2 separate regions of the Homo sapiens genome follow, and region 1 is linked to region 2. Evidence: fine-mapped expression QTL. A gene starts in region 2. The other region holds a variant in brackets. All regions are shown on one strand. Distances are from middle to middle. Region 1 overlaps LOC105370575 (a long non-coding RNA gene). Region 2 holds the start of ESRRB (estrogen related receptor beta).

The links. PIP is the estimated chance that this variant, and not a neighbour inherited with it, causes the effect.
Region 1: its variant is the best candidate, but not a certain one, in a credible set for the expression of ESRRB in nasal epithelium (TOPMed, PIP 0.89).

The regions. Positions count from the first base shown.
Region 1 is chr14:76,270,735-76,276,108 of GRCh38, reverse strand. The region is part of intron 2 of LOC105370575 (a long non-coding RNA gene); the gene reads left to right. Among named protein-coding and RNA genes, the nearest start is that of ESRRB, 100 kb to the left of the region's middle. The variant T/C (reference allele first, on the strand shown) is at 2,578.
Region 2 is chr14:76,374,063-76,379,436 of GRCh38, reverse strand. ESRRB (estrogen related receptor beta) reads right to left here and starts at 3,300. Exons shown (of 7, transcript NM_001379180.1): 1 at 2,986-3,300. The coding sequence starts at 3,035.

The DNA of each region.
Region 1 (5,374 bases), 100 kb after region 2:
TCCATATGGGTCCTACCCTTATAACAAATGCACTACGTTGGCCTTAATGTTGATTTCCCTCATTATTCAAGGATGGTCCCTGGACTCCACTAAATTCTAAGGGTTCCATAGCCTTCCTCTGAGAGAGTTGGCCAATTCTTGCAAAACTAAAGAAAGTTATTTATTAAAAAGAAGGAATAATGTCCTAATGACAAATTTATGATGTCCCCATTTCCTCAGAGCCATAGCAGAATTCCACTGTTTACAGAGCACATGAATAAATCCAGATTGGCTCCATTTGTTTCCAATGTTAGTGAGGTAGCACGAAGATTATGATCCTGTTGGAAGCAAAGTCCTTCCAGCCACTGAGGAAGGGCCATGTTATATACCACGTGGGGCTACCTTGACTTGGAAGCATTTCTTGAGAACACTACTGGGGATTACTGTTATCTATTCTGGGCCCAAGACTCCCCTGATGACACCACATTTCTTATGAAAGAAGAGCTCTCTCTCCACCTACCAGCCACCTAAAGAATAAAGCTCCTCTAGACCCAAAGAACATACTCATGTTTCTCTTGGACAGGGCTAAGTTAATCCCAAAGGAGAAGTGACATTTTCCAAATGGTATTTACTAATCTCTATTGACCAAGGCCTGTAATCTCAGCACTTTGGGAGGCCAAGGCGGGTGGATCACTTGGATCACTGGAGGTTAGGAGTTTGAGACCAGCCTGGCCAACATGGTGAAACCTCATCTCTACTTAAATAAATAAATTAGCCAGGTGTGGTGGCGGGCACCTATAATCCCAGCTACTTGGGAGGCTGAGGCAGAAGAACCGCTTGAATCCGGGAGGCAGAGGTTGCAGTGAGCCGAGATCGCACCACTGTACTCCAGCCTGGGCGACAGAGCGAGACTCCACCTCAAAAAAAAAAAAAAAAAAAAAAAAAAAACAAATAACAACAACAAAAATTCTCTTGACCAAGACACTACTTTCTTTAATCTCATCCTAAATCTGTCTGAAAAAGCCATGCAAGCTCACTTGTCTCTTTCAAATATGACTTGGGAACCTGAGTGGTTCAATCCCAAAGGCCTCCCCATCCACCATATAGCAACATGGCCAAGAGCACAGGCACTGGAGTCCAACTGCCTAGGTCTAAATCCTGGCTGGGCTATTACTTGTTGCACTGGTTATCTATTGCTGCATAAGAAATTATCCCAAACCCAGCAGCTTAAGACAAGACTCCTTGTTGGAGTGTGCACAATCTGTATATTGAGGGTAGCAATAGTACCTACTTTACAAGGATGTATGTGGATTAAGTGAGATCATGCAAGTAGGGTACTTTGTGCAGTTTCCACTACATAGGAGGGACTCAATATACAGAGATGCTACAGATGAGATCAACCTAAACCCTGGGCCCCTTTAGGAGCCACAGTTTCTGTGGCTCCGGGAATCTGGGACTAGCTGAGCTGGGTCCTCTGGTTTAGCATCTCTCACAAGGCTACAGCCAATGTATGGCCCAGGGTTGCAGTCATCTCAGACTTCCAAACTCACTCACATGGTTGGTGGCAGGATTCAGTTCCTCATGGGCTGCTGATGGGAGGCTGTCCTCAGTTCCTTGAGGCCTCTCCAGAGGACAACTGACATGGTAGGTCCCTTCACCAGAGCAAACAATCTAAAGGAGCTAGGGAGAGAGAGTATGAGCAAGACAAATGTCACGGGCTTTTGCCCTAATCTCAGAAGTGACATGCCGCACTTTGATCTATTCTATCCATTAGAAGCAAGTCACTAGGCACAGCCCACACACAGGGAGCGGGAACTGCATGTGGATGTGAATACCAGAGGCAAGAACCTTAAGGGCAGCTTAGAGGCTGCTGACCACACCAGTCATGTGACTTTGGCAAGTTATCTCACCTCCCAGTGCCTCAGTTTCCCCATCTGTAAAATGGGAATGTTAATAATTAATAGCAATTAGCCTCCAGGGATAGTGTGTGGGTTAAATACATGAATTCCAGTAAAGAACTTGGAAACATGCCAGGGAAGAGTGCATGTTCAATACATCTTTGCAATTACAAGTATTTACAGGAGGGGAGAAATAACAAAGGTGATTTGAGATCCTGGCATGCACCCACTAAACTAAGTCCCAGCCTGGTTTGCTACTGCAGAAAATATTCCAGTACCACAAAGAGAGAGGGGGAAGTGGGGCTGGAAGCAGGAGGAGATGCAGGCAGACAGGTCATCAGGATGTGTGATGCGAAAGGTGGGGAAAGGAACCTGGCAGGCCAGGGCTGTTCCAGGAGCCCAGGTCTTTGTCTCCTAAAGAGGCCCAGGGTTTAGGTTGATCTCATCTGTAGCATCTACATATATTGAGTCCCTCCTATGTAGTGGAAACTGCACAAAGTACCCTACTTGCATGATCTCATTTAATCTACACACATCCTTGTAAAGTAGGTACTATTGCTACCCTCAATATACAGATAGTGCACACTCCAACAAGGAGGATTATAAATTGTAATTTACTGACAAAAAAAATGGAAGCTCAGAGAGGTTAAGAAACTTGCCTGGGGTCACACAGCTTTGGAGTAGCAGAACAGGGAGTCAA[T/C]TGAAGTCTGTCTGACTCAGGGCCCAACCTTGAATCCACCAGGCTAACAGGCAGGGACCAGGCAGAGAACCGAAAACAGAGCATGCACTCCTAGTGTCTCCATTCATTCTTACTCTGACCCCCACTCTCCAGCCTCCCCAATGTGAGAAACAGGCTCTCGGGCTTCTCCAGAGCTGCACATGCTGTTTCTCAGCCTCGCCTCCCCATCCTTACAACCCAAATGTGAGCCTTGATGGGGTCCAGCCTCTAGCCTGCCTGACTCACCCTCTCCAGCTCTTTGCATCATTATGTCTGCGATAGACTACATGTTTATCCCCCCAGAATTCTTGTGTTGGAACCCTAAGCCCCAGAAGGATGATATTTGGAGATGGTGTCTTCATGAGGGTAGAGCCTTCCTGATGGGATTAGTGCCCTTAGAAGAAGAGATACAAGAGCACACTCTCTCTGTGTGTGCATGTGTGTGGGTGTGTGTCCCTTCTCTCTCTCTTCCTCTCTGTCTCACTCCCTCTCTCTCTGTCTCCCTCTCTGTCTGTCTCTTTCTCTTACTCTCTCTGTCTCTTTCCCTCCCTTATCTCTCTCTCCCTCTCTCTCTGCCTTTCTGTTTCTCTCTCTGTCCACTCCCTCTCTCTATCTCTCTCTCCCTCTCTCTCTCTTTCTCTCTGTCTCACTCCCTATCTCTTTCTCTGTCTCTCTCTCTCTTCCTCTCTCTGTCCCTCTCTCTCTCTCCCCTCCCCCCTCTCTCTGCCTCTTTCTGTGTGTCTCTCTGTCTCTCTGTATGTCTCTCTATATGTCTCTCTGTGTCTCTGTCTCTCTGTGTCTCTCTGTCTCTATTTCTCTCTGTCTGTCTCTCTCCCTCTCTCTTTCTCTCTCTCTGTTTCACTCCCTCTCTCTCCCTCTCTATGTGTCTCTGACTCTCTCTCTTTCTCTCTGTCTCACTCCCTCTCTCTCTGTGTATGTGTCTCTAACTCTCTCTCTTCCTCTCTCTTCCTCTCTCTCTCTGTCTCTCTCTTTCTGTCCCTCTCTCTACCCCTCTCTCCCTCTGCCTCTCTCTCTGTATGTCTCTGTATGTCTCTCTGTCTCTCTCTGTGTGTCTGTCTGTCTGTCTCTCTCTCTCTTTCTCTCTCCCAGGTGAGGACATGAGAGAGCAGCCATGTGCAAGCCAGGAGGAGGAGGCCCTCCCCAGAATCCAACGAAGTTAGCACTCTGATCTCCGACTCCCAGCCTCCAGCACTGTAGAGAAATGTATTTAAGCCCCCTAGTCTATAGTATTTGTTATGGCAGCCTGAGCCAACTAAGACAGTCATAACAGAAATAGAGCAACCTTAACACCATCATTGCAATCCCATCCTGCTCCTTTAGATTTCTTACAGTTGTCACCGTCTGACACCAAGTGCTTTCCAAAGTCACCTTTCTTCTCCACCTTTGTATTAAACCCTTTTCTTCAGATCATATTCATCTATCTTGAGCTCAGGAGCTGGCCTCGCTGACCCCTAATTCTTATGACACCACGAAGATCCTCCTTCCCACAAACCACTACTTCTAGATCCATATCATGGAGTCCCAGGCCACCCTAAAGAGATGCCCACTGTCCTGAGTGACCAGTGGCCCCCTCCAGGAGAAAAAGATTTTTCTCTGCCCATCACCAGGATGGAAGAGAAAGCCAGAGGCCCAGAGGAGAGACAAGAGAAAGATGGAGACCGAGGTGTAGACTCGAGGGGAGAGAGCGTGCTCTAGGGGGGCTATAAATTCCCTTCTAATTCCAAATAATTCCGATTACACGGATGAGTAGTTTTCAATCAGGAAGATAATCTCAGAGATAGATGGCAGGATAATTGTTCGTAGCGCCGACGTAAATATTGTGTCGTTTCTATTAATCTCCGCGAATCGGCTGTCAGAGGTGTCACTCATTCATCACAACAAATTAAAAATAGAATTTTAAGAGAGAAAGTCACGCCTGGGGGTGGGGTGGGAGAGGCTGGGCTCGCTTCAGGAACTGTGAATAAGAGGGGGAGGTGTCGCCTGCAAGCTGTTGCCAGAAATAAATCTGGCTTCCCAATTTAATATATTTATTTATGAAAGCAAATGGTAACGAGGGCTGTAGATCTCTATTAACTTCCCTGTAAGAGTGTGCACACATGTGAGCATGTGCGTGCACATGCATTGATGCAGAATGCCATACTAAGCCAAAGCATGGGCTGCCACTCTGCTAACATTGCCCTGGGGTGAAGCATCCTCAGCCCCATCTGGACCATGGAGCATGGACCTCCCAGGGGCAGGTCACCTGTATTCTGCACACCCCAGCCTTTCCCAGCCAGTGAGGGGTGATGGTGGGCAGGTCTAGGCATTGAGACCCCCCTTCATATTAGAGATCTGAGATCATTTTAAAGATCAGAGATGGGCTCACTTCAGCAGCACATATACTAAAGATCAGAGAGAAGCAGTAACTGGACTCACACTGGTGTTTCTGAAACTGCTGGCGATTTTCTGTAATGCCGTGGCCTTGCAGGGTTATACAGGCACCGAGGAACATAAATCCAGAGTAAAGATGCTTTAGAGCGACATCTGAGTGACAAGAGTAGGAGCTCATTTCTTTGTCTCTCTCTTATTTCAATTCCTTGAGGGCTGAGGTTCCTCCATGAGAAGGCACCCTTTCCCAGGATCCTCCCCCACCCAGTCCCCCCTCCATGCCTACCCACCCATGGTGGCAGATGCAATAGACAACACGGGTTTTGCCACTGGTTTGGAGATCCTAGCACGCACCCATTAACCTAAGTCCCTCCTGCTTTGCTGCTGCAGA
Region 2 (5,374 bases):
CGTGTGAACCCACATATTTTACCTTCAGGACAATTTGTTCTTTGTTTCTTTAACAACAGCAAAGTGGTCATCGGACGGTGGGGAAGATAGCCCCCCTTGCTCTCTGGACTGTTTGCCGTGGGTCTCCAGCTGGTCCAGTCATGGACCCATTTGTACACAGGCACACACAGGCGAGCACGCTGCCTCCCACTCTGGGTGATTATATATGTACATAAAATATTGATTAGAATGGGTAATGGAGTCACCTACAGGATTGGCTACAGGAAAATGAAAATGAAGGAGAGCAAGGTAGGAAGGTACGTATGTTTCTCTCTGTGTGTGTTCATTTCTCACCTGGGAAAGTGAGAATGATTCTACAGCATTAACAAATGCTCTCTATGTGTTAGAAGCAAAAGGGAGGACCAGAGAGTTCCTCCTCCCTCAACTCTAGTCCCTGTGCCCTTGGGTTTTCTCAAGTCTGGGAATGTCAGCCAATCCACAGGGGTCAAAACAGTGAGCAGAGCATACACGAACCCACTTACTGTATGTTCCCTGGGAAATGCCGGCACTATAATGAATGGCTTTGTCCTACTATCCTTCTACCAAACCAAAGAATCCAGTCCCCTGCTCTGTTACTTTACTACCCATGGCTCTAAAGCTGTGTCACAAAGCCATGGGGTAGAGGTCAGAAAGATGTCTCCCCAGACACCAGCCCCAGACCTCCACAAGCTCGTCCTTGAAATGATGCCCCTCTGCGCCACAGCACATGCAGACCCTCCCTAGGCGGCACATATATGTATAAGAGGCCAGCTCATCAATGCCTGGGCTGCTGCCCAGTGGGTCCTGGGCTTTGAGAAATGACATCTGACAGGGGTGCTCAATTCCTCGGTGGAGACAGCAGGTATATTTTTGGCTTTTCCTGTGCCCCATGGAGGGACAAGCTAATTCTTTGCAAAAAAAAACCGGAAAGGGTTGGGGATCTAAACCTCTGTCAGGCTTAGTTTATAAATGATTTCTATCTCAAACCTTTCCCAGACCCCCAGGACCTCAGCTCCCTGACTTCCTTCTGCTGCTTCCCTGACATTGCCTTTTTGCCCATATTTCTCCTCAAACTCCAGTCAGGGCTGCCGTCAACTCGATGAATTACCCAGCTGTTAAAGCCTCCATCTCACTCCTTGCTTTCCTGGTAAGCATAATCAAAGAATGTACTTCCTTCATACGAATTTTCATATTTATTGACTATGACTTGAGCCAGGGACAAATACATAAGTATTTCGTGCTCAACTAAAGAAGTCACCTCTGGAGAGAGGGAGCCTTAATAATTTAAATATCCAATATTTGTCATACTTGATCATTTTATGTAAGGAAATGCTCCACAAGCACCAAATACTGTCCACAGCCTCACTAACCTCAGGTGCTCCCACCCCATCCCCACCCCAGCTAGAATCTAACCTTTAAAAGGAATGAAAGCCACTTTTCAAGCTGATGGAAATCGGAATCCATTATTATTAAGGATTCCTCTCCCAGACCAGCGCCTTCTGCCGACATTCTGGTGGCATCTAAAAGGCCCTCTGCCCCAGGGTGGAGTGGGGAAAATCCCCAAACTAGAAGCAGGAACAGTCTGGTCAACAACACAAGCCATGCTGTGGACAGCTGCCCTCTCTCTCAAGCGGGGTGCACCGTGGTGGAGGTGCTCCATGCAGCCAGGAGAGGGGTTAGGTACTTCCTGGGACCCCACATGATCCAGAGTATTTATTTTAGAGATGTAGTCGTGGTTCTTGGGGGGAGGGGGAGAGCGAGTGGTACACAAATGAAAGCACGGTGGAACTGGAGAAACGCTGACTTGGAGAATTTAGTTTGCGTCAGAAAAAAAAGAGGAAGACGAGCACAAAGTTAAGCAGGAAAGCTGTCCGTAAGAACCTAGAGTTTTATGTATTATTATTATTAAGCCTTCCGAGGGACCACTTTGCACGCGCACACAACCTGCCTCCGGGACACCCGCCGGGGGCGCCGTGGGGTGCGCAGCGCCCAAGGGGAGACCCGGGCAGGTACCCGAGCAGGTGGAGCGGCGACCGTGGAGGGTGTCGGGAGGGAAACCGTAGGTGGATAGAGTGGGATCCCCGAGAGCCCGGACATGACACGCGGGTTGACCACCCGCTGCTTAGGCGATCAGTTCACTTTCCCACTCTGCGCTCTTGGCGCGCTGCCCCGGGGCTGGAGACCCGCGGTTTCTGAGAGTCGCTTCTCGCGGCGCCGGCTGCCGCCCGCGCCCACGCCGCTCGGATAACCCCAGGTTCTGGCACCGCGAGCGCAAAGCCGCCTCGGAGCAGGGAAATGGTGCCCTTCTGTTCCGCTGGTCACAGCCTCCCCCAAAGCCGAGAACGAACTTTGCCTACGACGCAGCGCTGGGCCCGCATCCCCCGGGCGCCCTGGATCCGCCGCGCCACGTGCGCACCCTCGGGGCGCCCCACGGAGACCGCGAGGCGAGAGCGGCACTGGCCGCCTGCAGTTTCCAAACCGCCGCGGCACGTTCGATTTTCTCTCTCTTGCCGGGATCATTTTTGGTCCCCAGGATGGAAATAATAAAACAAAGCGCCCGCGGGAAAGGCTTTCTCTGACGGGACAGGACATCCTTGCAACCACATCCCTGCACCTGTTCTGGGCTTCTGCCTCCCTTCTTGCTCCATTCCACAAAAACTCAAATATTTTCTCACCCCGGAGCAAGATCAGAGAGGAGAGAGAAAGGGAGAAAGTGCATGAGAAAGCGCCACTCTTGCCTGAAAGTGTGGATTTGTAAAAGGGGGTGCGGGAAAAAGTTAGAGGAGGGTTTATGCCCTAGAAAGAAACCCAGAAGTGTGCGGCTTTTCCCCTCCTTCGTCCCCCAAGTGCCCCCCCGAAGTCCCTTCCACTTTTACACAAGAATGTGCAGAAAAGGAACTGCGATCCCCAGGACAGAGACTGCCAGACGGGCAGAAGGACAGACAGACCGAGAAGCAGGGCACCTACTGGTTGTGGTAGCCGAGGGGGTCCGGGATGCAGAGTTCGGACACGTCCATCAGTCCCGTTTTAGCATTCCCAGTTGGTAGAGAAAGACGGCGGGGAAATCACGCGGAAGAGCGAGTGAAGGGCACGGGCAAGGTGCGAGCCCGGGCAGGGCACAGTGAGCGCGAGAACGCAGAGTGGGAGGAGGCGGCCGCGGCGGGGGAGAGGGAGGCAGAGAGCCGTGCGCGCACAGCCCAGCTCTCCACTCATCCGCACGCTCCGGAGAGAGCGGGCAGAGGGGATGCGAAGCCGTGGAGGAGGCTGGGGCACAAGAGACTTGGAGCCCACTAACCCTACTGTAGCTTTAAGGCTGGGAGACTGATGTATAGTTTGGCTCCTATTGGCTATCTCTCAGGGGCTGGACTTAAAGTGACAGAATCAAGCTGGGGTGGGGGGAGGGGGTGAGACAGAGAGACTTCATGGAATGAGACGCTCAGCGCGCGAGGTCCCCACCTCCTGAGCAGTAGGAGTACTGGGTGTTAGAGCCCTAAGGCCTGCCTTCTCGCAGTTAAAGGGGGGTGGGGGGGAATGTCCAACCGCCAGGTGGGTCTGGGGTGGGGGGAGATTTATTGCTTACATACCCCCCGGGCCACCCCTATCCCATCTTTTAACTGGCAGGTCTAGCAAACTCACCTCTCAGCCTTTCTGGAATGGATCTGTTTTCCAAATTAAAAATGAGTCACATTTCTCCACCCACGCACCAAAGAGAAGAGGCAGCCTCAAACCCTGCGCTGTGTGCGCAAAAGTGCAAAGGGTCAGGCCAGCAGGTGAGGCACAGCAAGAAGGCAGGAGAGAAACAGATTCCCTTCCCAGTTCTCATCACCTGGGCCAGTCAGTTCTGCACCACTCTCATATGGCTAGATGCAGGGTGCGCATCTATAAAACGTTCTCTCAATGTATGAAGTGATGCTCTAGTCATTGGCAGCTCTCTGAAATGTACCCAGGACACAGACATGAGCAAATAAATTCCTGTCTGCTTAGGAAAATACAATCGTGGTGAAAATGATCAACTTACCCGCCACATCCACTCCAAGGCACAAGTACACACTTTGAAATACACACCTGAATCCCCAGCTACAAACGCACCTGCATCCCCGTCCGCTGCTCCCTCAGTGAACCCGAATATTATGGGATGCCACTGTACCAAAATGAGCTGTAAGTCATGCCCCAGCCCTGCTTCTGGGTTTTTCATCTTTTGAGATGCACCAGCCACAGGGATAATAATCAATTTGATGATTCAAATGAGTGTGGGGAGGGGGGTAGGTATAGAATTATTTAAAAGGGGGGAAAAGCCCTCAGGAGACACCACCACCTTATTCTCCTATATTCTGCAGAAGACAATGAGCAGTAGGGGGGAAGACATAATTTTATCATCAAAATAATGTCTAAATGGAGTGTAACTGCAGGCAATGTTCAAGCACTTCAGGAATAAAGGCAGGGAGGGTTGTGAGAAACCCCAGGAGGGGCCAGCCGCCTGGGCAGGGGCTGGGAGAGTGGGCAGAAGGATCGCAGATGATTTTTGACTTGGATAAATGTGCTCGTGCAGGTTGGGAAACAGAGCTGAGATTTTTCATATGTGCTGAAGTGGAGGAACAAGTGGGATTCTCTGGGCGCAAGGCTCAGGAAGGCATCTCACAGAGAGATGGATGAAGATGTCTCCTCTGTCAGTAGCCCCCCAGCAGCCCCCGATTTTTAAAAATCACATAGGTACTTCATCAGAGACAGAAAGAGGGGTGCAGGGATGCTTCCCTTGAGCCTGGCTTCTATATGACCATCATCTCTCACCAGGACCTCAGTGACTGGTTTTTCGGCATCCTTTCTGCCCTGCTGAAATCCATTCTCCAGGCACACAGCAGCCAGGGAGCGATTTGTAAAATGCACATCCAATGTCCCGTTGTTGCAATTAGGAAAAAGGCCCCAGTCCTTGGCCTCCAAGGAAGGCATCCTATGACAGCTTCCTGCAGGTCCCTCTGTTCCTCTCCACAGCCCCTGCTGCTTTCCCTCTGGGCCCCAGTCTTTACATCTGCCACCTAGAAGGCCCCACCTTCCATATAGTGCCAGAATCTTCTGTGGTTCCTTTGCTTTGGGTAGTTTATCACAGTTTGCAATTGTCTGTGTACTGGCATGAGTGATAATTCCCTCCTCCACCCTTCCCTCACTAGACTGTAAGCTCCATGGGAGTAGGGACCATGTCTCTTTTTGTTCACCAGAGAATCTCTAGCATCTAAAGTTGCCTGATACATAACAGTTGCTTGATGAAGATTTTGCTGAATGAATGGTTAACCTGTAGGAGTTTGGAGTGGGGTGCCACAGCCTGCTGAGTGACAGGCCGCTGCCCAGGAAGAAGGTGAGG